Linked DNA regions of Homo sapiens. The protein of the gene in region 3 purifies or fractionates together with the protein of the main gene of each other region. This does not show direct contact. Each region holds a gene or a part of one and is shown on either strand. Other genes may lie near its edges. The genes, in order: VPS13C, TMEM33, SLC9C1, TMEM217, UFD1, PPM1L and VPS13A.

Region 1 (3,500 bases), on a different chromosome or scaffold from region 3:
AAAAAAGTCACCCCAAAATAAAATAATGTAATGGAAAGAAAGATCTTATTTATGGTAGGTCTGTAGAAATTATAATAATACACTCTTTTTTTCAGGACTGGATTCCTCCCTTTCTCTCCAGTCAAGAAAGCAGTCACTTTTTGCCCGACTAGAAAATATTATTGTCACAGATGTTGATCCAAAGACAGTTCATAAGAAAGTAGGTGATTGTAAACAGATAGTTAATATTCTTTAATGACTGAATATGAGCTTCTATTGTAAAATGTATTTTATTTTAAAAACATTAATGAAATATATTTCAATAGAAAAATTTTTTTATAAAGATTATAAATGTAAAGCCTTTTGTAAATGAGATTTTATTTTGTCATTACCTTCCCGGATAGAGTACATTCAAGTCTCTGTTTTTCAGGCTGTGTCAATAATGGGAAATGAAGTTTTCCGTTTTAATTTGGATTTGTATCCAGATGCTACTGAGGGGGATTTGTATACTGACATGTCCAAAGTGGATGGTGTGCTGTCTCTGAATGTTGGCTGTATTCAGATTGTCTATCTTCATAAATTCCTTATGTCACTTCTGGTAAAATAATTATTTGTATATTGATTTTTCAACTTTGAAATATTTTAAAAGTGTGATAATTATGATGGCAAATGTTATAAACCTTGGATTTTAGAGTGGGCATTATTTTAATTATATTTATGCGTGAATGTAGAGATCAAAACCCCTATTTAACAGTTGAAAAGTGAATCATTTAATGATTTTTGTCTAGAACAAATTATTTTTGCTACAATATAATGAAGCCAGATTCTTTAGTATAAAAATTATTGGAAAAAAATTTTTCTCTGTTCCTTAACCATATAACATTAGCTCAGTTCAGGCAGCTCATAGTTATAGATGGATTATCCGTAATTTCTTAATACTGCTAGAAAAATAGGGCTCAATGGAAAGTTAAATATTGGAAAAAAAAAGTTACCACATGTATGAAAAGAAGATAGTGTTATTATTGATGTGCCTGTATTCTCTTTGAATTTCTCTTTTTATGCTTTGTGTCCACAGAACTTCCTGAATAATTTCCAGACAGCCAAAGAGTCTCTGAGTGCTGCCACTGCCCAGGCTGCAGAAAGGGCTGCCACAAGTGTGAAAGATCTTGCCCAGAGGAGTTTTCGTGTTTCCATCAATATTGATTTGAAAGCACCGGTTATAGTCATCCCACAGTCTTCTATTTCCACCAATGCAGTAGTGGTAGATCTTGGGTTAATCAGAGTTCATAATCAGTTCAGTCTGGTGTCTGATGAAGACTACTTAAATCCTCCAGTAATTGATAGAATGGATGTGCAGCTAACAAAGCTTACACTTTATAGGTATGCTCTTTCAATAATTATGGATTTAAATATTATATTCATGATTTCCATGAAATTTTATGACTTGAAATTCCTACCCAACACAGTTTATTCAAATAAACTGTTCCATTACACGGAACAGTTTTTTTTATTGTTGTCATTGTTTTGTGTGTGTGTGTGTGTGTGTGTGTGTGTGTGTGTGTGTGTGTGTGTGTTTTGAGTTGGAGTCTTGGTCTGTCACCCAGGATGGAGTGCAGTGGCGTGATCTCGGCTCACTGCAACCTCTGCCTCCTGGGTTCAAGCAATCCTCCTGCCTCAGCCTCCCGAGTAGCTGGGACTATAGACATGTGCTACCATGCCTGGCTAATTTTTTTTGTATTTTTAATAGAAATGGGGTTTCACCATGTTGGCCAGGCTGGTCTCAAACTCCTCACCTCAGGTGATCCACCTGCTTTGGACCCCCAAAGTGCTGGGATTACAGGTGTGAGCCACCGCGCCTGGCCCAGAAGAGTTTTTTATTTTGTGTTTTGAGATGAAGTCTTGCTCTGTCGCCCAGGCTGGAGTGCAATGGTGCAGTCTTGGCTCACTGCAACTTCTGCATCCTGGATTCAAGTGATTCTCCTGCCTCAGCCTCCTGAGTAACTGGGACTATAGGCACGTGCCATCATGCCTGGCTAATTTTTTTGTATTTTTCGTTATAGAGATGGGGTTTCACCATGTTGGCCAGGCTAGTCTCAAACTCCTGATATCAGGTGTTCTGCCCATCTTGGCCTCCCAAAGTGCTGAGATTACAGGCATGAGCCATCGCACCAGGCCACCAGAACAGTTTTTTAATCAACTTTTGTTTTAAAAAATTTCAGACCTACAGAAAAATGGAAAAAAATAGTACTGTGAATGCACCTACATATCCTTCATCTAGATTCACCAGTTGTTTATATTTGCTTTAACCTATCTATAAACATATACATATTATTTAAAACATTTTTTGCTAAATCATTTGAGAATAGACATCTTTAACTTTTTGTCCCTAAATACTTTATCATATGTCTCCTATAAACAAGGACATTCATTCTCTTATATTAACTATGATATAATTCTAGAAATTTAATATCGATGTAATACTATAATCTGAAATTCAGTCAATATTCAGATTTTACCAGTTGTCCCATTATAATAATTCGCATTATAGGAATGTCCATTATAAAAATTTCTCCCTGATTCAGGATCACCCATAGCGTATAATTGTATTCTGTACTATTGAGGAAGATTTCTGTACTGACAGAAATTTATTTTGGAGTAGTTCTTCAGCTTTTCTTTGTCTTTTTATGACTACATGACTACTACTGTAGTTTTGAAGACTACAGTCCGGTTCCACTCACCTCTCAATTTGGTTGTGTCTGAGTGATTCCTCATGGTTTGATTGAACTTACACATTTTTGGCAGGCATGTTGTGTAAATTATTTTGTATCTTCAGTGCTCATACCAGGTGGCACATGAAATCTGTACATAATTCATTTTAAAATTATTTTCTACCCCATCCATGAAGATTTAATTATGTAGAATAAAAAATTAATGACTACAAGGCAAGTCTAGAAAATAATCCTAGAGAAAACCTTTATGAAATGCCTTGGAAAATGCTAACTCCTCTTGTTCACTTTGCCATCATTTTCTTCAGTCTCTGCACCAACATACCTATTAATCCTTGAACAACTGTATATGATGATTTTCTGTATTTCTTCAATGGTGTGGATTGCTTTTAAAAACTTATTCAATTTTTCACCTATCTACTGTTTAAAGAAAAAAGTTTTCTTAATGGTTCATTGTATATCACCTTTTAATTTGTCCCTTCTAGTGGATTATAGATTAATTATAGGTTCAGTTTTGAAAATACTCAAGCCACACTGTTTCAGATCAGTATTTAGAGCAGCAAATAACTGCTTGACTTTGCTTTTTTTTAATATGTTGCATTTCTACCCTATATCTATGCATTATGTAACATTTCTGTTTTTCGTAGGACAGTGATCCAGCCAGGCATCTACCATCCTGATATTCAGCTGTTGCACCCAATTAACTTGGAATTTCTTGTAAATCGGAATCTAGCTGCATCTTGGTACCACAAGGTGCCTGTTGTGGAAATTAAAGGACATCTTGATTCAATGAAT
Region 2 (3,500 bases), on a different chromosome or scaffold from region 3:
AATACTGTGCTTTCTTTATCTCTTGTCACATCAACTGACACTGCAGGTCAGATTTCCTACACGCACAAGAGGAGAAAGACTATATAGAGTTAATCCATCACACTTGACTATGTTCCTTCTAAAGAACCCATGTGAACATCACCTTAAAACATAAATATTTCCTAGAATAGTTACTACCAGTAAACCTCCCAAACCTTTAGAAGCTCCTTTGTTCTCCTTAACAGCAGATCCAATCATAACTTTCTACCCTGAATATAAGACTGCTCCTTAAAACAATCTCTGGAAATAACTCCTAGATTTACACGGGTATGCCTTTGGTATACTAAATGTTGAGCTATAATATCATATAGGCTCTGTGGAATTCTCCTAATCCTAGAGAATTCCAATGAGTTAAGGGAAACTAGTTGTCTCAGCCAGGCTTAGTGGCTCACACCTATAATCCCAGCACTCTGGGAGGTCGAGGCGGGCAGATCACTTGAGGCCAGGAGTTCAAGACCAGCCTGACCAACATGGTGAACATGGTGAAATCCTGTCTCTACTAAAAATACAAAAATTAGCTGGGCGTGGTGGTGCACGCCTGTAGTCTCAGCTACTAGGGAGGCTGAGGCATGAGAATCGCTTTAACCCAGGAGGCAGAGGTTGCAGTGAGCCAAGACTGCACCACTGCACTCCAGCCTGGGCAACTGAGTGAGAATCTGTCTCAAAAAAAAAAAAAAAAAAAAAAAAAAGAGCGAGAGAAACTAGTTGTCTCTACAAGCCAAGCATAATTTTCAAATCTAGGTGCCATTCCTCATATAATATCTACAAATTTCAATATGCTTTTATATTACTATCAAAAGTCTAAATTTTAAAAGAGGTTCAACGGGCTATATCTAGTCTACCTACAAAATGATCATGAAAACACTTTAAGTACCATTTTTTACACATCTGAAAATGAAGGAGAAAGGATAATTTTATATTAGTGTGTTTCGGTGATGTAGGCACTTAGCATGAAAAGAAAAAACTGGATAGACCTTGATCTGAATGGTGTCACTCCAAATTGTGGCCTATTTTACTGTTTTCCTAGAAAGCACATATTGACAGGGTACTTCTTTTGAATAATTCAGTATTTTAAAAATGCAAGCCAGGCACAGTGGCTCACGCCTGTAATCCAGCACTTTGGAAGGCCGAGGTGGGGGGATCACGAGGTCAGGAGTTCAAGACCAGCCTGGCCAACATGGTGAAACCTCATCTCTACTAAAAATACAAAAACTAGCTGGGCATGGTGGCGGGCACCTGTAACCCCAGCTACTTGGAGGGCTGAAGGAGAATTGCTTGAATCCGGGAGGCAGAGGTTGCAGTGAGCTGAGATGGCGCCATTGCACTCCAGCCTGGCCAACAAGAGTGAAACTCCGTCTCAAAAACAAACAAGCAAACAAACAAAAAATGCTTAATTTTTTTTTTCAATCTTGAATGATTACATATTTAAAAGGGCCATGGAATTCAGGGACTTAGTTTTATAGCTGACTCAGCACTTTTGGTGGCATTTAACCTTCAAACACATCATGTGAAAATGGGGGGCTACCTGAGGAAAGAGTGCCACCTACTGATTATAAACATAACTGTCCGTGGCTACTTCTTCCTTGAAGTTTTCATTTCAAAGTGTCAAAATTAGTCTAATTTGTGTGACAGCTTTGAGACTGTCAGATTCTAAGGAGATTAAGGAAGGAAGAGGTGGTGGTCAGAATAACCTATGTTAATCAAAATAAACTCCTTAGCATTAGTTAAGGTTCTTTACCTCAATCTCTCAAAATTAATGTTATTCTGAACTAAAACTTAAAAAAAAAAAAAACTAAATCTCTCAGTTCTACTTGTCTTATTACACATATACTCATCTTCTTTTCCAGAAAAAAATAATATTCATGTCCTAAACTTAGAAACCTAACCTGAAGTTTTGATCTGGATTTTTAGGAAGAAGGAAGTATTGATGGTTTCATCATTCTTAGCTCTATAAAAGAACCTATTAATTTTTCATAACTTTTAGCTTAGTATTATAGTTGGCCTTTTCTCTGTAAGGGACATTCTTAAATATTCAAGTCTAATTTTCTTTAAAAAGTTCGCTTGCTTTCTTTCTTCCAGGAGGATCTACCTCTGAACTTCATTCCAAAAAAAAAAAAAAAAACCTAAATACAAATTGCATAATAAATTTCTCTTTAGATTGATATTAGAGTTTAAATTAGTAAGGTACCAACTATACAAAAGGACAGAGAATCCTTGCTAAAATAAAGTAGATTTTGTATAAGGCTTCCATCTATCCAAAAAGGTTTAATATTTAAAAATGCCAGAAGAACAATGGTACTACACCACTTCCAGAAGAATTAGACACACTGGATGTTAAATGAACTTCTTTTAAACCTGTAACTAACAATAAGTTCAATGATGCAGTAAAGAGTTAATTTCTGTTACTACATTCATTCTATATATTGCTATTGTATTTCCTTAATTTTAATTTGATAGGTATACATGTAACACTATAATTTCAAATTCCAAATCAGCCGGTTGTAGATATTCCTATTGCAGAATTTCTAACTATGAGTTCATGCAAACTAAACATCTAGTAATGCTCAAATTGTAAAATTTACTTTTTCGTAAGTTTAAGATTACCTTTTTTTGTATATTAAACCTTCCTTTAAGAAACAAATCTGTTTCAACTTGTCAAACATGAGTATATCAGAAATATTATAATTCTGCTAAAATGACATAAAACCTCAATTTAAAGCACAGAGTGTTATTTTATACTGTAATATTTTTAATGTTAAAATGCTTTTTGTTAAAACCAACATGGATTATTGACCAATTATCTTGACCAACAGTACTTTTCAAAATAAACAGGAAAAACTCAAAACAGAGACACACAGATCTTTAAAAGACAATCATGATTTTAAAAAAATCATGGATCATGGTATAAACAGAGCACACAAAAGGAAAATAAGAAATGAAAAAAAAACTGTTGAAATTCAAATAAGTTTTATACTTCAGTTAGTAGTATTGTTCTGGGCTAATATCTTACTTTAGATAAATGTTCTACAGTTATGTAAAACGTTAACATGAGAGGACCTGAGTAAAGGGTATGCAAAAGAACTCTTCTTGGCAGGGCGCGGTGGCTCACACCTGTAATCCCGGCACTTTGGGAGGCCGAGGCAGGCAGATCACGAGGTCAGGAGATCGAGACCATCCTGGCCAACATGGTGAAACCCTGTCTCTACTAAAAATACTAAAATTTTGTATTTTTACAATACAGCTGGGACTACAGGCGTGGTGGCGTGCACCTGTAGTCCCAGCTACTCGGGAGGCTGAGGCAGGAGAAGCACTTGAACCCAGGAGGCAGAGGCTACAGTGAGCCAGGATTGCGCCACTGCACTCCAGCCTTGGCGACAGAGACAGACTCTGTCTCAAAAAACAAAAACAACAACAAAAAAACTCTCTTGTACATTTCTGACTCTTCTATAAATCTAAAAGAT
Region 3 (4,204 bases):
CTACAAGAAAAAACAACCAGCCCCATTAAAAAGTAGGCAAAGGACAAGACACTTCTAAAAAGAAGACATACATGCTGCCAACAAGCATATGAAAAAAAAAGCTTAACATCACTGATCATTAGAGAAATGCAAATCAAAACCACAAGGAAGGTACCATTTCACACCAGTCAAAATGGCTCCTATTAAAAAGTCAAAAAATAACAGATGCTGACAAGGTTGTGGAGAAAAAGGAATGCTTATACACTGTTGGTGGGAATGTAAATTAGTTCAACCACTGTGGAAAACAGTGTGGTGATTCCTCAAAGACCTAAAAACAGATCTAACATTTGACCCAGCAATCCCATTACGGGGTATAAACACAAAGAAATGTAAACTGTTCTATCATAAAGACATATGCATGCGTACATTCATTGCAGTACTGTTCACAAAAGCAAAGTCATAGAATCAACCCAAATGCCCATCAATGGTAGACTAGATAAACTAAATGTGGCACATATACACCATGAAATACTATGCAGCCATAAAAAAGAATGAGATCATGTCCTTTGTAGGAACATGGATGGAGCTGGAAGCCACTATTCTTAGCAAACTAATGCAGGAACAGAAAACCAAATACTGCATGTTCTCACTTATAAGTGGAAGCTAAATATTCAGAACACGTGGACACATAGAGGGGAATACACTGGGGCCTACTTGAGGGTAGATGGTGGGAGGAGAGAGAGGATCAGGAAAAATAACTAATGGGTGCCAGGCTTAATAGCTGGGTGATTAAATAATTTGTACAACAAATCTCCATGACATGAATTTACCCATATAACAAACCTGCACATGTATCCCAGAACATGAAAGTTAAATTATAATCACATTAATAATAATAAAATTACCACGAATCCTGTTTACTCTTAAATTCAGAGATATATATGATCAAATTCAACACAATTTATCTCTCTGGCTATGCATATGTGATAAATACCATTTGGCTTCCCCAACCTCTACTCCAAAATCTCATAAGAAATCTCTATTTGAGAATAGATGTCATCTTAAAATAGTTTTAAAAATACTAACATTACTGTAGCTTAATATGTTAAATGTATGGGTAAGGAAATAGCTATGAGAATAAACAGGTTTTCTTTTTTTTGTTTTTTGAGACGGAGTCATGATCTGTCGCCCAGGCTGGAGTGCAGTGGTGCGATCTCGGCTCACTGCAAGCTCTGCCTCCCGGGTTCACACCATTCTCCTGCCTCAGCCTCCCGAGTAGCTGGGACTACAGGCGCCAGCCACCACGCCCGGCTAATTTTTTGTATTTTTAGTAGAGACGGGGTTTCACTGTGTTAGCCAGGATGGTCTCGATCTCCTGACCTTGTGATCTGCCCGCCTCGGCCTCCCAAAGTGCTGGGATTACAGGCGTGAGCCACCACGCCCGGCCACAGGTTTTCAATATAATTAGAACTCTTCATCTTAAGCTGACTTTTGACAGCTTTGTAAAAGTCTGTGAGTCCAAATCCCATTAAAGAAAAAAATATTGGTTTATCACATAGGTCCTCTGCATTAATTTAACAATAAGTTAGTTGACTGAGCACAGTGGCTCACGCCTGTAATCCCAGCACTTTGGGAGGCCTAGGCGGGTGGATCACTTGAGATCAGGAGTTCGAGACTAGCCTGGCCAAAATAGTGAAACTGTCTCTACTAAAAATACAAAAAAAAAAAAAAAAAAATTAGCCAGGTGTGGTGGCACATGCCTGTAATCCCAACTACTTGGGAGGCTGAGACAGGAGAATCAATTGAAGAGGCAGAGATTGCAGTGAGCCTAGATTGTGCCACTGCACTCCAGCTTGGGTGACAGAGTGAGACTCTATTTCAAATATATATATATATATATATCTCTCATGTTAGCTAATATCTCAATTCTCTTTGTGTGTGGAGGAAATTAATGACTGCCCTCTCAAAAATGACATGAATTTGTCCTTGTCAGTCAGCCAGCATTGAGAAATTTTGTCTCATGAACCGTAAGTCACACTAATTTACCATGTTACTGAACATGGAAACAGTCTTCTTCCTTCAGATTGGAACGTTTTGCAAGAATTAGGTGAAGAAAGCATCCTGAAGAGGGCACTGTGGGATCTCAGTAATCTTCACAGCTACAAAGCTCATGCTTAATGGTTTATTTTATATTGATACCAGAGGCTGGATTGTCTCCTTAGTAAACTCTCCTACCACACAACGCAGACATCTTACTGACTCTGAAGGTGGGTGGGCTATTGCCCTCCTAATGCCCCTCCACTCAGAATGAGCCCTTCCTCCAGCTCAAGATCAGCTCCACACACCTGAGGCGATTCCCTGAACCAGTGAGCTTTCCCCTAGGGCTGGACTTTTCAGTTTCAGTAACGCAAAGGGAACACATGCCACTGGATAGTTCACAAAGAGTTGATGTAAAAAGCATAATGGAGGAGGGGAAGCAGCTAAGGGGTAGAAGTTCAAACCGAGAAGCTAGCTGATCTTTGGGAAAGTGTTCCATGGTCTGCCACAAGAAAGGCAGAAGCGCCAAGAGGGAGTGGCTGAATCTCTAGCAGGAAAACAGTGGGAGCCTTTGTTCATCTAGGAGGCGAGACTGAGAGAGAAAGTACCAGTAGGAAAGGTCAACTTCCAGAAAAGGAAACTAGAGACTGGAGAGCTCACCATCCGGAGCCTCAGGAGGAGTATCCCGTGGTGTGCAAGTGAGAAGTGGGGGGCAGCTATTTCGCTCACAGCCAAACAGCCCAGACCAACTGCAACCTCACTGACAGTTACTTGCTCCAAACTCGCCCCTAGTCTGCACCGGTTAGCTTCAGGCCCATCATCTCTTACTTGATTGGCTGATGAAATGCAACGTCATTGCTCCTGTATATCTCAGGCATTTGACGGCTTAAGGCTTTGTTTTATTTTTTAAAAATAAACAAATAAGGGGTGAAAATGAACCTACAGAAATTGCGCCATTGTGTTAATTTAAGACTTTGGGACAGTGGATTTCTGACAAAGAGCTGTTGGACACTGCTTTCCCAGAATTCTAGTAAAAGGAAGTTTCCTGGATAAGATAGTGTGGTAGAGATATGAGGACGCAGGTTGCTGGGTTAGGGAAAAAGTGAATGGATATTGTGGGCATGTAAGAGAATGAAATCAAGATGACAAGGTGAACTTTCACTCTGGGTTATATGTGAGGAAATTTTCAGGAATAATGATATACTCATTTGTTTTTTCTAAACATAATATGTAAAAAATATTTTAATTGAAATTACTTAGTTATTACTATAGAGCCAACTTTTCACATTCCTACTCTCATAAAATATCTTAAAGTTATTTAAAATTGTATTTAATGTTTTGTTCTCTGTGTTTCATCTCTTTCTCCCGACCCACACGTTTATAAGTGAATGGTGGTAAAATTCCCAACTCTTCATTTGGCCTCCTCTGATACTACCCTGATGAAGAAGGCAGGAGGCAACTTGTTTGGCTGGGTTGGAGCAGAAGTCCAGGCTCCCTACATGGTCTCCAACTGAGGCATGGGGTGCATCTTTATGGCCTGGTTGTTATGGAAGTTCCAGCTCCCACAAGGCCTTTTCTGATACTGCTCTGGTTGGGGTGGGGAAACAGGCAGGGTTCTGGCATCTTGTATGGTATGGGTGAAGTTTAAGCTTCCTACTCAGTCTTTGCTGGTATGTGGGTACAGGGAGTGGGTGAACACTTTTCTGTGGTGTTTGGTTAAAGTAGAGCAGTTACTGGTGAAATTTTCTGTCTTGCTGGGCTGCCCCTTTTCTTGGGTCTTTAAAAAATCTATTCTCGGCCAGGTGCAGTGGCTCATGCCTGTAATCCCAGCACTTTGGGAGGCCGAGGCAGGTGGATCACCTGAGGTCAGGAGTTCGAGACCAGCCTGACCAACAAGGTGAAACCCCGTCTCTACTAAAAATACAAAAATTAGCCGGGCATGGTGGCAGGCGCCTATAGTCCTAGCTCCGGGAGGCTAAGAAAGGAGAATCACTTGAACCCGGGAGATGGAGGTTGCAGTGAGCCGAGATTGCGCCACTGCACTCCAGCCTGGGAGACAGGGTGAGACACCGTTTCAAAAAAAAAAAAAAAGGATTCTCATTGTTGGAAATACATGCCACATATCTGTGTGTGGGTTGTGGTTCATGTGTGGATATATATTTAAAAATTAATTAAGTTGCAAAGCTAA
Region 4 (3,500 bases), on a different chromosome or scaffold from region 3:
AAACTCTAAAACATGCATGGGAATGCTGAACATGTAACTCAGGATCGTGGTTTCCACTGGAGAGACGGAGGGGAATGAGATCAGAGAGGAACAAAATGGAACTTTAATTATATTTTAAGATTTTTTGTTTATTAATCTTTTTCTTATTTGTTCTTTATTATTTATTGCAGGAGATGGCAAATTACCAATGATGGGCCAAATCTGGTATGCTATTTTTATATGACCTAGGAGATAAAAATGGATTTTACATTTTTAATTTTTTTTATGAGATGGAGTTTCACTCTTGTTGCCCAGGCTGGAGTGCAATGGCACAATCTCGGCTCACTGCAACCTCCACCTCCCAGGTTCAAGCAATTCTTCTGCCTCAGCCTCCCGAGTAGCTGGGATTACAGGCATGCGCCACCATGCCCAGCTAATTTTGTAATTTTAATAGAGCCAGGGTTTCTCCATGTTGGTCAGGCCGGTCTCGAACTCCTGACCTCAGGTGATCCGCCTGCCTCGGCCTCCCAAAGTGCTGGGATTACAGGCGTGAGCCACTGCGCCTGGCCTGGATTTTACATTTTTTAATTGTTGAAAAACTTGAAAGAAGAATAATATTCCATGACATGTAACATAAAGTTCAAATTTCAATGTGGATAAAATAAGTTTTATTATTACACAGCCCCGAGAGCTTATTTATTGTCTATGGTTGTTTTCACACTACAATGGCAGAGATGAATAGCTGCAAGAGAGACCATATGGCTGGCAAAGCCTAAAAATATCTACAATCCTGCCTTTGATACAAGAAGTTTGTCAACCCCTGGTTGACATACATACATACATGTATACATACATAACATACATATACATGTATGCATATATATATGCACACACACATGCATATATATGTCAACATGTATATGTTGTGAGGGGTGTGAGGGGTGTGTGTGTGCACGTGTACGTGTATGTGTGTGTGTGTGTGTGTATGTGTGTGTATATATATATATATATATATTTTTTTTTTTTTTTTTTTTTTGACAGGGTCTCACTCTGTCACCCAGGCTGGAGTGCAATGGCACAATCTCGGCTCCCTGCAACCCCCGCCTCCTGGGCTCAAGTGATCCTCCCACCTCAGCCTCTGAGTAGCTGGGACCACAGGTGTGTGCCACCACACTCCACTAATTTTTTGTATTTTTGATAGAGATGGGGTTTTGTCATGTTGCCCAGGCTGGTCTCGAACTCCTGAGCTCAAGTGATCCACCTGCCTCAGCCTCCCAAAGTGCTGGGATTGCAGGTGTGAGCTACTGTTACCCAGGTGATGTATATTTTATAATATTAAAAAACGGTAACATTAAAGAAAAGTTCCAGAAGTACCAAGATGTATATAATTCTACCCTCTACCAAAATTTGCTTAATTTTTCCACGTTTTCTTCCAATCTTTGACAAAACCCATATATTCTTATTGAAATCATGCAAAGATATTTTATATTCTACCTTTTCCCTGCTGTACATTTCATACACCTTTTTGATGTGCTATGTAGCATTCAAATTTGCCCTCTTTAATGGTATAACATGGTTCAAGTTTATAAACTGCACACCATAATTTACATAACTTCTTCTCATGTTTAAATCTTCATATTCTTTTCATTTTCCCCTGTTTATTATTGGTTGCAAGGCAAAGAATATCTTTGTACACAGAGATTTCCCCCTTTCTTCTTGCCAGGTATGGTGACTTCTTTTCTTAGAATAAATTCTTAGGAATGAAATACCTAGTTTTCCCTTCACCCCCCAAATTCTAAAAACTTTCTCTTCCTCTCTTTATTCCTATAACCTCTTACTTTTTCAGTCTTTTTGCTTATCCCCTTGCCTTCTCTAATATAACTGATCTCTGCCATTGGCTCTAACAGTGGTTGTTTAGATACTATAAAGCTCTCTTGCTGTTAAATCCCAGCTTGACCTCACTATCTCTTAGGTGGCCCAACATTGCACAGTGCATTGTGAGGGCTGCTTCTTGCTCTCATTTCTTAACCCTTCCCCTCATCACAGTGTCTACTTCCTTCCTTCCACTCCACTCCTTCACTAAGGTTAAAGTCTGCCAGGGATCTCTCTGTAAGTCCAAAGGCTTTTTTCTCTATTTTTATCTTCCCATTGGAGCTCCTGTCCTGAAGTGACTTTCCTCCTATAGTTCTTCAGGCCTTTCTCTTTCCTTTTCTCTCCCTACTCAAGGATTATCTCTTTCATAAAACTTTCTCTAAGGGTTGGGATATGCCTACCTCTTTTGAGTCCACAGTCAACCCAGGCATATCTCATCCCTTAACTATACTTTGCCACATTTTAAGTTGTTTAACCCTCTTTTGAATGAAGATGAAGTTGAGGGGGGGAAAGTAAAAACTTGCAGAAGCCTCTACTTACAGTTTCAAAATAAACTCTTGAGATAAAGTAAACAATCACAGGCCATACTGTATTAGTAACAGAAGATCTATAAAGTGAGGTCCATGGATCAGCAGCATCAGTGTCACCTGGGAGCTTGTTAGAAATTCTGAGTTGTAGGCTCCACCTCAGACCTCCTGAATCAGAATCTAGGTTTTTAATATAATCCTCAGTGATTCACATGTGCAATATAGTATAGGAAGCACTGGTCTAGTGGACCAGTGAATGTCTGCCAAGAAGGACCTCCATCAGAAGGCCTCTAAGGACCCCTTGGGAACCTCAAACCAATGATTTACACCTCTTGCTGGGCAAGGGTGGCTGCCATACCTATCAGCCCTTTGATGACAGCTACCAACTGATCTCCTGACTAGGTGGGTGGCCTCCCTCCCTCATCATTCCAGGTACAGGCACATTCCTTTGAAGCTGCAAAAGAGTTTGAAGAATACAATCTTTCTCAGAGAAGACTGTTCTTCAACCAAGGATGTAGGCAAGGATGTAGAGTCATTGGTAAAGTGGACACATCCTACTAGGGGTTAGGAAACACTGTTTCTATCATCTTTCCTAACATAAAAATATGTGAACAACATAGAATCGAAAGACAAGAAATATTTATATTCTTCCTTCTTTCACTCAGTAAATATTTACTAAGCACTCACTATGTTCCAAACACTATTCTAGGTGCTGGGGATACAGCAGGGAACAAAACAAAGTCCCAGTCTTAGTGGGGTTCACGATCTCTAGGGCAGTAGTCCCCAACCTTTTTGGCACCTGGGACCAGTTTCAGGGAAGACAACTTTTCCATGAAAATTTTGGGGGAGGGGGGTTAAAGGATGAAACAGTTCCACTTCAAATCACAAGGCATTAGATTCTCATAAGGAGTGCGCAATGCAACCTAGATCCCTTGTATGAGCAGTTCACAATAGGGTTCAAACTCCTGTGAGAATCTGCTGCTGCTGCTGATCTGACAGGAGGCGGAGCTCTGGCAGTAATGATTGCATGCCCACCCGCCACTCACCTCCTGCTGTGCGGCCTGGTTCCTAACAGGCAACAGACAGGGGGCCTTTACTCTAGGGGATGGAGATGGACAACAA
Region 5 (3,500 bases), on a different chromosome or scaffold from region 3:
GCTGAACTGTGTGCATTTTATTGTATACAAATTATACCATGGGATTTTAAAAAATCCTGTGGGAGTACTAAAGAACAAAAAAGATTTAATGAGTCAGATAGGTCCTCTCAAAAGTTCCTCAAAATCAAAGATGCTTTCATTTATACTTCTGTTGTTTCTATCTTTTGAGCTGATAACTTTAGTTAATAGAAATTAAAATAAAGAAACCAGCAAATACTTTTTATAACAGTAAAACTGTAGAACCCAAATGCCCACACAAGGAAATGTCTATTCATGTGGAATATTTTGCCATGTCTTCCTCATCAATTTGCTGAAGGACTTTACATAAAAAGGTCACATGAAATGTGGCTCCAGAGCCTGCCACTGTGAGTCCAACTTGAGGGTGAAAGGGTGAGGCTATCTAGGTTCACCTCGCTTGGTCAAACAGCTTTCCAGAACCAGAGCAACTTTGTGAAAAGCGCCTTATGTGGTGGATGCTTTCTTTGCTCCCAAATATGAAGTGCCACGGTACGAAGTGCCCTTCCCTCCACTCCTCTAGTGACCCTGCCAGGGCATCTTCTCTGACTTCCACTGCAGCAGCTGGAGGAGCAGAGCCAGAGCCCTCAGGCTGAGAACACGAGGCCTCTGCAGGCAGGGCGGGCTCCCCATATGGCCTCTGCGTACTCTGGCACCTGCTGCAGCACCAGCTTCCCACTTTCTCTGCTCGGTGCCAAGACTGCTTTCATCCAGACCTCAGCCAGACCAGAAAACACCAGGCTCTCAACTGATGGAAGTGACGCCCTTTCTCCACACACTAACAAGTTAATTGTGCTGACAAAACAGCATCTGAGATCAACCTGATAAGTCTGCATTGGGGCAGGGCGCGGTGGCTCATGCACGTAATCCCAGCACTTTGGGAGGCTGAGGCAGGTGGAGCACCTGAGGTCAGGAGTTCGAGACCAGCTTAGGCAACATGGTGAAACTCCGTCTCTACTAAAAATACAAAAATTAGCCGGGTGTGGTGGTGCACACCTGTAATCCCAGCTACTCAGGAGGCTGAGGCAGGAGAATCACTTGAATCTGGGAGGCAGAGTTTGCAGTGAGCTGAGACCGTGCCACTGCACTCCAACCTGAGCAGCAGAGTGAGACTCCGTCTCAAAAAAAAGTCTGCATTGCAACACATGTAAAAACCCTGAGAAAATGGGCATGGCCCATTCCTGGTCACTGACAGCCAAACAAGCATGTCTAGGTCAGAGCTCTGAAGGACAAGTTAACTAGCTCTTCCCATAGGACATCCCCCTGCCTGTGGGACAGGAGGCTCAACAAGGCCATCGTGTCCAGAACATAGGCAGCAAAGAATATACATGGCCCATATGCATCCAGAGCACACCCAGCAGTGCCTTGCTCCTAAGAAAACATGCGGAGAGAGCGCTACTGGGAAAGGAGGCAGCTTTTCTTAACTTCCTATCTGTCTGTGTTGTTTGACTGTTTGTTTTTTTTTTCAAGTATGCATTAAAAAAAAATAAAAAAAAAGAAGTAGAATGGAGTGGCCACTCTTATGCCATGATCGTAACAGGAAAAATCAGGGCCATGGAGCTAGAGATCTTGATTGGTGCACACAGCACCGTCCCGTACCTGCACTGCCTACTTCCTGATGCTGTCAACACATACACCTGGCTTAAGTTCAGAGGTGAACAAAAAGAATCCACTAGAACCTGATACCTTTGCTTTCTGCTTGGTGACATAGAAACTGCAGTCATTGCTACCTATTGGCCTGGAGTGAATCAGCTCTCAGGCTGGCATGCAGTGAGGTTGACGGGCCAGTGCACAGCTGGGCGGAGGTACTAGGGAGCCACAGAAGGGGCTGGAGCTGAAGGCAGATAAGCTGCTCCCTCCTTCCACTGGACATACTGTGCATCCTGGCTTTGTGCCAGGTGACACAGACCAACTGAAAGAAGGGCTTCATTGTGGTCTCCATGAAGTGTCTGGAAAGTGACAGAGGTGGCCCAGACAGCACCCAGTGCACTTGGCCAGGGCCACGCAGATGTGCTAGCTGAACCCCATTATTCTCAAATCACAACTTGAATCACAAATGTGTGATCCCCAAAGCAGGCACAGATTCAATACAGTACATGATGTTTAACAACCGCCAGCACACTCTCCTTTGTCTAGAAGAACTCCGCTTATTTGAAAAAGATACACGGCTTTGGGGTTGGTGATGTCCAGGAAGTCAGGGCTCTGAGGTTGGAATTTGGAGTAGGTGGCCACTTGAAGGTTGACGCTCTCCACCTGGACCAGGCCGCCTTCTTCCAAGAGTAAGTTCTGCATCATCTGAAAGGAAGAAGAGGCTACATGAGACTCCTAGAGATGAAGCAGCCTCCACAACCACTGCTCCCTATACACTGGGCAGGCCCGTCTTACTTGGGTCCTTGGAAGAGGAACCTGAGCCAAGATAAGTAATTCGTGATACTATGTCAGGAAGGAGGGAAAAATCAAGTGATGTGGAAGGAAGAAGGCCAATAAAGGGGTGCTACTGAAGCTGTATAGCTCACAGTGTGAACGCATCTCTGCAGGGCTGCCCGGATTACTCACTAGCTCCAGGCTTCCCAGGGGCAGAGCATTTTCCTGGAATAGTCACTCACTGTACTTCCAAGCTGTCCCACAAGCAAATTATAAGGCCCTGCGTCAAGTAGGGCTGCACCTGAGGTAGGACAAAAGCAGCACAAGGCAAGGCTGACCTGGCAATGGAATGGCCCACCACAGCTGAGGCTGCAAGATGGTGACAGACCCCAGAGGTCTCTGCTAAGGAGGTTATAAAAATCTGACAAAGCCTCCACATGTCTCTATTAAACAACCCAGCCAGGTAGACGACGGCTGAGAAGTGAGACGGAAAGAGATAAACAATGCCCATGAGTACTGGGTGTGCAGGGAGTCCAGACTCAGGTCAGAAGCTCTATGTCTCTTGCAATGAAATTTTGCTTGTCTTATTTGAAACCGTCTTAAAAGGGGTGTCAGACATATACATCAGTAGAAAGAGCCGTAGAAGAGAGCTCCCACGCACCGAGCCCTGACAGTTGGACAGTGCTCACGTCGTGGCTCAGTCCATCGATCAGCACTACCTCACACCCAGTCCCAAGCCACATTAGATGCCCTGAAGCAAATCCCAGGTATCACATCCCTTCAAGAATGTTTCATCGGGAGTGGCAGTGAGAAGGTGACTTTAACAGCCAAGGGAAAAGGGGGCTGAGGGCTGTGTCACAAATGAGAGGGAGCTCATGAGGAGGGAGAGGCATGCTGAGGCCGAGGCTGTGCCTGGGAAGCCGTGCCTAGGCCATGAGTGAAGCCTGAGTGGTGGGCCCTATGGATAGGCTTGCAGAGGACCCCATGCACTCACGCTGACAGCTGCTTGTCAGGCTAGTAAGGGCAGAAATAGAGGGTGGTCACTCTACCAAATGCCACAGGCAGGCACAGAAGGATGCAGAGGTGACTGGCTTTGGTAACGGGGGTCTGGCATCCCCAGG
Region 6 (2,586 bases), about 49 Mb from region 3:
TCCCATATCATCCCACCTTTCATGTTTTATGTACATAGTTAAGTTTGGCATGTTATCTCTTGCCTAAAATGTGAGGCCTTCCTGTAGTTCCACAGTAGTTACTCTTGGCTGCAGAAATAGGTTTGGGAAGCTATGAGAGATTACCCCAAAGTCATGGATGAAACAAATCTAGTCGAAAACATGGTACAGAGTGAATTAAGGCAAAAGTCATTAACTTAAAATTACATCCAATATTTAGGAATAGCTCATCCTCTGCACATTATCCAAAATATTTTAAAAAACTAAAAGTAAGATCTCTTAGGCTAGGTGGCGGATTGCAAAGGGCAGGGGGCAGTTGATACCATGAAGCTTCCAATAGATGCATTTCTAAACATTTTTTCTAATATGTAAATTTGCTGATCCTTAGTAATGTTAATGCTTTGTCTATTTGTTATTTTTACCACTGTTGAACAGCAAACTGTTGAGGCTAGGGTTGATTATTGATAATTTTTATGTGTTTAGTAATAACCACAGCATCATACGTACAACTGCTTTAATAAATCCAAGTTAAGGACTTTGAGGAGAGCATGTAGCAAGTATTCATTTTAACAAATCATCACAGACAGTTTCCCTGTTCAAAGCTCCACCAAAAAGCAAGCATGCAGCAAAGGCATAGACTGTATTTAGAGATGTGGTTTCATTTATTCTTGAAGTCCTATAACCTTGCATTATTTAAACACAAAATCCCACCTAACATTTGCCAAATCCAAGTTAATCTCAAAAACCTCCGAGGACATTGAGCACAAGCAGATTACTGTAAGGGCACTGGTGGCAGATTGTGGTGGAGAGAGGGCTGAGTGACCCAGAGCAAAGCCTGCCCGGGTTACTCGCTGCCACTTCAGGAGAGGGATTGTATCAGCTCTCATTACCTTTTGTCATGAGGCAGTTCATAAATTAAATATGATATCATGCATTATCTCAAAATATTTCTATATTAATTAGATAATTCACGATGTAAAACGTGTTCATGCAGAAGCAAAGGCGGATGTAATAGTCAAGTATCAGGGAAAAACCCCTTTAGGATACCCAGACATTAAAAATGTAAAAAGTAGCTTATAAGAAATGTGGATTATCAGATTTTTACTATATATAGGTTGTGTTTAATAGTAATTTCTGACACCTGCACATAGATGAAGAAAAGGCAGTTGTTACCACTTTTCACCATTCAAAAAATGGGCTTGTCTCTTAGAGTATTGGTTAATGCTTTGCTTATTTGTTAATGAAGACAGCATTTTAATTTTAAAGCTTCCTTTTGTAGGACTGATGGCACGGGCAGAATCACATTTAAGAAAAATGGTTTGGAACACTTTTTAATAAAAAATTGTAAAATCAGTTTCCAGTGTGGTCAAAATTAGAATGTAAAGGAAAGCATTTTTAAGAAAATACAGAAGCCCAAATCAAGGGAGAGTAATATAAAAGGAAATATTTTAAATTAAGAAAAGGAGGTGTTATAGTTTATTACATCATGAATTATGCTTTCTGTACTTACGCTCTTAGTGAAGGAGATAACATTGAAGTGAGAAAATGAACATTCTCAGTTATTTGCGAAGTTAGTAAAATTGCAGTCCCTATTCCATTTTTTTCTGATGAAAATGGATACATGAGATCTCATTTATTGCTCTCCTCAACACCTTTACTGTCCCAGATTCCATTCACGTTCCAAATCGTGGACAGTAAAACTGAAGTCAGATAAACACAGTCACAGGTACAACTGGGAGCGAGTTTTAACATAGTGGTAATTTTGCAAATGCCAACATGAATACTAGTGAGTACTCAATTTACGACAGACAATTTCACAAAAACCAACCACAGAGTGATTTGATATTCTTGCTTCTTAGAGAGTTTTCTAATCCATATAATGCAATGGGTCAGGTTGCTCATATGATTAAAAAAATTAATCCTGTAGAAATGATGTATTAGACATCTCTAACCCAAGAAAAAGATGTCTTTTGTATAACTTTTAAATTCCCATTTGTCTATCTTAGGACAAATGATGACTTCTTCGTGTAGTAATGAAAACGTCTAAATCCTGCTCTGTGGAGAAAAGCTAGAACCATGGGACATTAAGCAAGAATACTCCTCTGATTTAGGCTCCCAGACTACAACTAACAGTCTTTATGTATTTATCATCTTGGTTATTGTTTTATCTCAAGCATATACAGTGTGCAGAAAGTAGAATAATGAATAAAATATGACCATGGAGAAAACCCATAACTTTTGCTTCTATTATAGAAAGCAGTGTTTGTTCTTTTTAATTTATTACATGTTCACATTGAAACATTAACATCTACAATATTGTCTTTCAGTTTACTCTTCAATTACTAAAGCAAATGATTTTGATTTATAGCACTTACACAACTGCAGTTCAGGTCACAGAATTGAAATCTATTTGATAATGTCTCAGCATTCTCATGGGCAGCCAGGAAAAAAAAAAAGAGAGAGAAAGACAAATAGAAATTTTAGTGGGTTCAGATAAATGATTATTCTGACAAACCTGGAAAATAGTAATTAAACAGTTCATTCCAAAAGACCCCAATGTAAACTCTG
Region 7 (3,500 bases), on a different chromosome or scaffold from region 3:
GTTTCTCCAATTAAGATATACAAATGGTCAATAAGCCCATGAAAAGATGTTCAACATTACTAATTAGAGAAATGTAAATGAAAACTACAAGATACCACCTCATATCCATTAGGATAACTACTATCAAAAAAAGAGAAAATAAATGTTGGTGAGGATGTGGAGAAATGGTGACCTTTGTACACTGTTGGTAGGAATGTAAAATGGTGCAGTCACTATAGAAAGTAGTATGATAATTCCTCAAAAAAATTGATAATGGAATTACTATATGATCCAGTAATTCTGCTTCTGGGTATGTAACCCAAAAATCTGACAGCACAGACTGAACTTCAAAGAAAAATATCCACATTCATAACACCATTATTCACAACAGCCAAAAGGTGGAAGCTGCCCAACTATTCATCAACAGATGAATGGAGAAACAAAATGCAGTATATACATACAATGGGATACTATTTAGCTTGAAAAATTATTGAAATGCTGACATTTCCTACAACACGGATGCACCTTGAGGACATTATGCCAAGTAAAAGAAACCAATAACAAATGGCAAATACTGTATAATTCCACTTATACTTCAAGTATTCGAATTTACAGACATCAAAAGTAGAATAACGGTTACTGGGGTCTGGGAAGACGGTGGAATGGGTAGTCATTGCTTAACGGGTAAGTGGTTCAGTTTTGCAAGATGAAGAATTCAGGAGATGAATAATGGTGAAGTCAGGAGATGAATGGTGGTGATGGTTGCACAATGTAAGTGTACTTAATGACATGAAGTGTACACTTAAAATGGTTAAGATAGGCCGGGTGTGGTGGGTCACACCTGTAATCCCAGCACTTTGGGAGGCCGAGGCGGGCAGATTACTAGGTCAAGAGATCAAGACCATTCTGGTCAACATAGTGAAACCCCATTTCTACTAAAAATACAAAAATTAGCTGGGCATGGTGGCATGCATCTGTAGTCCCAGCTACTTAGGAGGCTGAGGCAGGAGAATCGCTTGAACCCAGGAGGCAGAGGTTGCAGTAAGCAGAGACTGCGCCACTGCACTCCAGGCTGGGCAACACAGCAGGACTCCATCTCAAAAATTAAAAAAAACAAATAAATAAAGGAGTTCTTCAGAAAGAAGGAAAATGATTTAAACCAAAAACTCAGATTCACAGGAGCATTAGAGAATTAAGAGATGAAGGTAAATTAAGTCTTTTCTTCCTTATTCTTAAATTAATAGAAAAATGTCTAAAATACTAATAGCAGCAATGCATTGGATTATTACAGCTTATAGGTAAGTGAAATTAATGACAACAATGTTACAATGGGCAGAAGGGAGGAATCTGTATACTGTATTGTAAGATAGAGTATTACATATACTACCTCCATTTTCCATGAAGTAGTATAGTGGGATTTTTGTTTTTGTGTTTTTTGAGACAGAGTTTCGCACTGTCGCCCAGGCTAGAGTGAAGTGGCACAATCTCGGCTCACTGCCTCCCAGTTCAAGAGATTCTCATACCTCAGCCTCCTGAGTAGCTGAGACTACAGGCGCACATTACCATGCTCAGCAAATTTTTTGTATTTCTAGTAGAGATGGGGTTTCACCATGTTGACCAGGCAGGTCTCGTACTCTTAACCTTAAATGATCCGCCAGCCTCAGTCCCCCAAAATGCTGGAATTACAGGCGTGAGCCACTATACCTGACCTATAATGTTATTTGGACGTGGACTTGGACTAGTTTTAAGTGAACAGCACAAACTGTAATACAACCACTTAAATAAATTGTTTAAGAAGCATAATTGGTATGCTAAGACAGGAGAAAAAAATTAAATCATATCACATGATCAATTAAAACCAGAGAGGGCAAAAGAGGAGGGGAAGACTGTTTAAAAAGGAAACAAGTATAACAAAACAGAAAACAGCTATAAATATGATAAGACACTGTCAAAGGAAAATAAAGGTTTTTCTCTCTACTCTCATATTCGACACAGAACCCTTAGATAACCAGATATGTGAAGTTTTTCCCCCAATCCCTAAACAATTCTCCAACAGACACTAACTATAATTCAATTAAATAATGACACTATCTACCTAGAAAGGGTGTCATATCGAGCCGGGCGCAGTAGCTCACGCCTGTAATCCCAGCACTTTGGGAGGCCAAGGCAGGTGGATCACAAGGTCAAGAGATCAAGACCATCCTGGTCAACATGGTGAAACTCCGTCTCTACTAAAAATACAAAAAGTAGCCTGGTGTGGTGACAGGCGCCTGTAGTCCCAGCTACTCGGGAGGCTGAGGCAGGAGAATCACTTGAACCCGGGAGGCGGAGGTTGCAGTGAGCCAAAATTGCGCCACCGCACTCCAGCCTGGCGACAGAGCGAGACTCTGTCTCAAAAAAAAAAAAAGAGATAATGTCATATCCCACATGGTAAGGGCTCAGTTCCATAAGACTGCCCCTCACTTCAGATGTCAGTCACAAGTCGCAGGCTGTGATCTGTGCTTCTGATTGACCAGCTATAAATCAGGGTTCGCACCTGATTTTATTTGGTTTGATAATTTGCTGGGATAACTCACAAAACTCAGGGAAATACTTATATTTAACAGTTTATCATAAAGGATATTACAAAGGATACAGATAAAGAGATGGACAGAGCAAAGTAAGGTGGTGGGGAGCTTCCATGCCCTCCCTGTTGTGGACTTTGGTATCTGCACAGGTCTTGGAACTAAACCCCTGGAGATACTGAGTGCTAAACATACACGTCATGACCAAATGGGATTTATTCTAGGTATGCAAGGCTAGTTCAACATTCAAAGATCAATTAATGTAATGTATCACACCAACAGATTAAAAAAGAAAAAAATCCTGTGATAATAGTAATAGATGCAGAAAAAAACATTTGACAAAATCCAGCATTCTTTTGTTTTTGTTTTTTTGAGACGGAGTCTTGCTCTGTCACCTAGGCTGGAGTGCAGTAGCACGATCTCGGCTCACTGCAACCTCCGCCTCCCATGTTCAAGCGATTCTCGTGTCTCAGCCTCCCAAGTAGCTGGGACTACAGGTGCCCGCCACCACACCCAGCTAATTTTTGTATTTTTAGTAGAGACAGGGTCTCACCATGTTGGCCAGGCTGGGCTCGAACTCCTGGCCTCAACTGATCTGGCCACCTCAGCTTCCCAAAGTGCTAAAATTACAGGCATGAGCCATCATGCCTGGCTCCAACATTCTTGAAGGAAAAGAAAACACTCTCAGCAAAGCAGAATAGATGTGTATGTATGACAGAAAGAAAAAAATTAGAGTATTTGTTGCCTCTGAAGATGAGGGTAGGAATAAATTAGGAAAGGTCAGGAAAAAGACTTTCTGGGGTGATGGTCATGTTCTATATCTTGACTGGGTTTGAGTTACATGTGTGTATGTATTTGTCAAAACTCAGTCAATGTACACTTAAGATTTGTATATTTTCTTCTACATAAATTTTACCTCAAAAGGAAAAAAACTAAGCAAATATTGCACTCTAATGA

Evidence for each region.
Region 1: the proteins of SLC9C1 (region 3) and VPS13C purify together in Homo sapiens (affinity purification with mass spectrometry; one large-scale study listed by BioGRID and IntAct). This does not show direct contact.
Region 2: the proteins of SLC9C1 (region 3) and TMEM33 purify together in Homo sapiens (affinity purification with mass spectrometry; one large-scale study listed by BioGRID and IntAct). This does not show direct contact.
Region 4: the proteins of SLC9C1 (region 3) and TMEM217 purify together in Homo sapiens (affinity purification with mass spectrometry; one large-scale study listed by BioGRID and IntAct). This does not show direct contact.
Region 5: the proteins of SLC9C1 (region 3) and UFD1 purify together in Homo sapiens (affinity purification with mass spectrometry; one large-scale study listed by BioGRID and IntAct). This does not show direct contact.
Region 6: the proteins of SLC9C1 (region 3) and PPM1L purify together in Homo sapiens (affinity purification with mass spectrometry; one large-scale study listed by BioGRID and IntAct). This does not show direct contact.
Region 7: the proteins of SLC9C1 (region 3) and VPS13A purify together in Homo sapiens (affinity purification with mass spectrometry; one large-scale study listed by BioGRID and IntAct). This does not show direct contact.

Annotation. Positions count from the first base shown.
Region 1 is NC_000015.10:61,959,448-61,962,947, reverse strand, and holds part of VPS13C (intermembrane lipid transfer protein VPS13C), read left to right. Parts: intron 1-95; coding exon 96-199; intron 200-409; coding exon 410-577; intron 578-1,054; coding exon 1,055-1,359; intron 1,360-3,352; coding exon 3,353-3,500. UniProt on the Homo sapiens protein: Mediates the transfer of lipids between membranes at organelle contact sites. Necessary for proper mitochondrial function and maintenance of mitochondrial transmembrane potential.
Region 2 is NC_000004.12:41,955,929-41,959,428, reverse strand, and holds part of TMEM33 (transmembrane protein 33), read right to left. Parts: 3' UTR 1-3,500. UniProt on the Homo sapiens protein: Acts as a regulator of the tubular endoplasmic reticulum (ER) network by modulating intracellular calcium homeostasis. Mechanistically, stimulates PKD2 calcium-dependent activity. Suppresses the RTN3/4-induced formation of the ER tubules.
Region 3 is NC_000003.12:112,291,417-112,295,620, forward strand, and holds the start of SLC9C1 (solute carrier family 9 member C1), read right to left. Parts: upstream 2,801-4,204; 5' UTR 2,677-2,800; intron 1-2,676. UniProt on the Homo sapiens protein: Sperm-specific solute carrier involved in intracellular pH regulation of spermatozoa. Required for sperm motility and fertility.
Region 4 is NC_000006.12:37,251,645-37,255,144, forward strand, and holds part of TMEM217 (transmembrane protein 217), read right to left. Parts: intron 1-3,500.
Region 5 is NC_000022.11:19,465,694-19,469,193, forward strand, and holds part of UFD1 (ubiquitin recognition factor in ER-associated degradation protein 1), read right to left. Parts: intron 2,311-3,500; coding exon 2,180-2,310; intron 1-2,179. UniProt on the Homo sapiens protein: Essential component of the ubiquitin-dependent proteolytic pathway which degrades ubiquitin fusion proteins.
Region 6 is NC_000003.12:161,074,231-161,076,816, forward strand, and holds part of PPM1L (protein phosphatase 1L), read left to right. Parts: 3' UTR 1-2,586. UniProt on the Homo sapiens protein: Acts as a suppressor of the SAPK signaling pathways by associating with and dephosphorylating MAP3K7/TAK1 and MAP3K5, and by attenuating the association between MAP3K7/TAK1 and MAP2K4 or MAP2K6.
Region 7 is NC_000009.12:77,184,034-77,187,533, reverse strand, and holds part of VPS13A (intermembrane lipid transfer protein VPS13A), read right to left. Parts: intron 1-3,500. UniProt on the Homo sapiens protein: Mediates the transfer of lipids between membranes at organelle contact sites. Binds phospholipids. Required for the formation or stabilization of ER-mitochondria contact sites which enable transfer of lipids between the ER and mitochondria.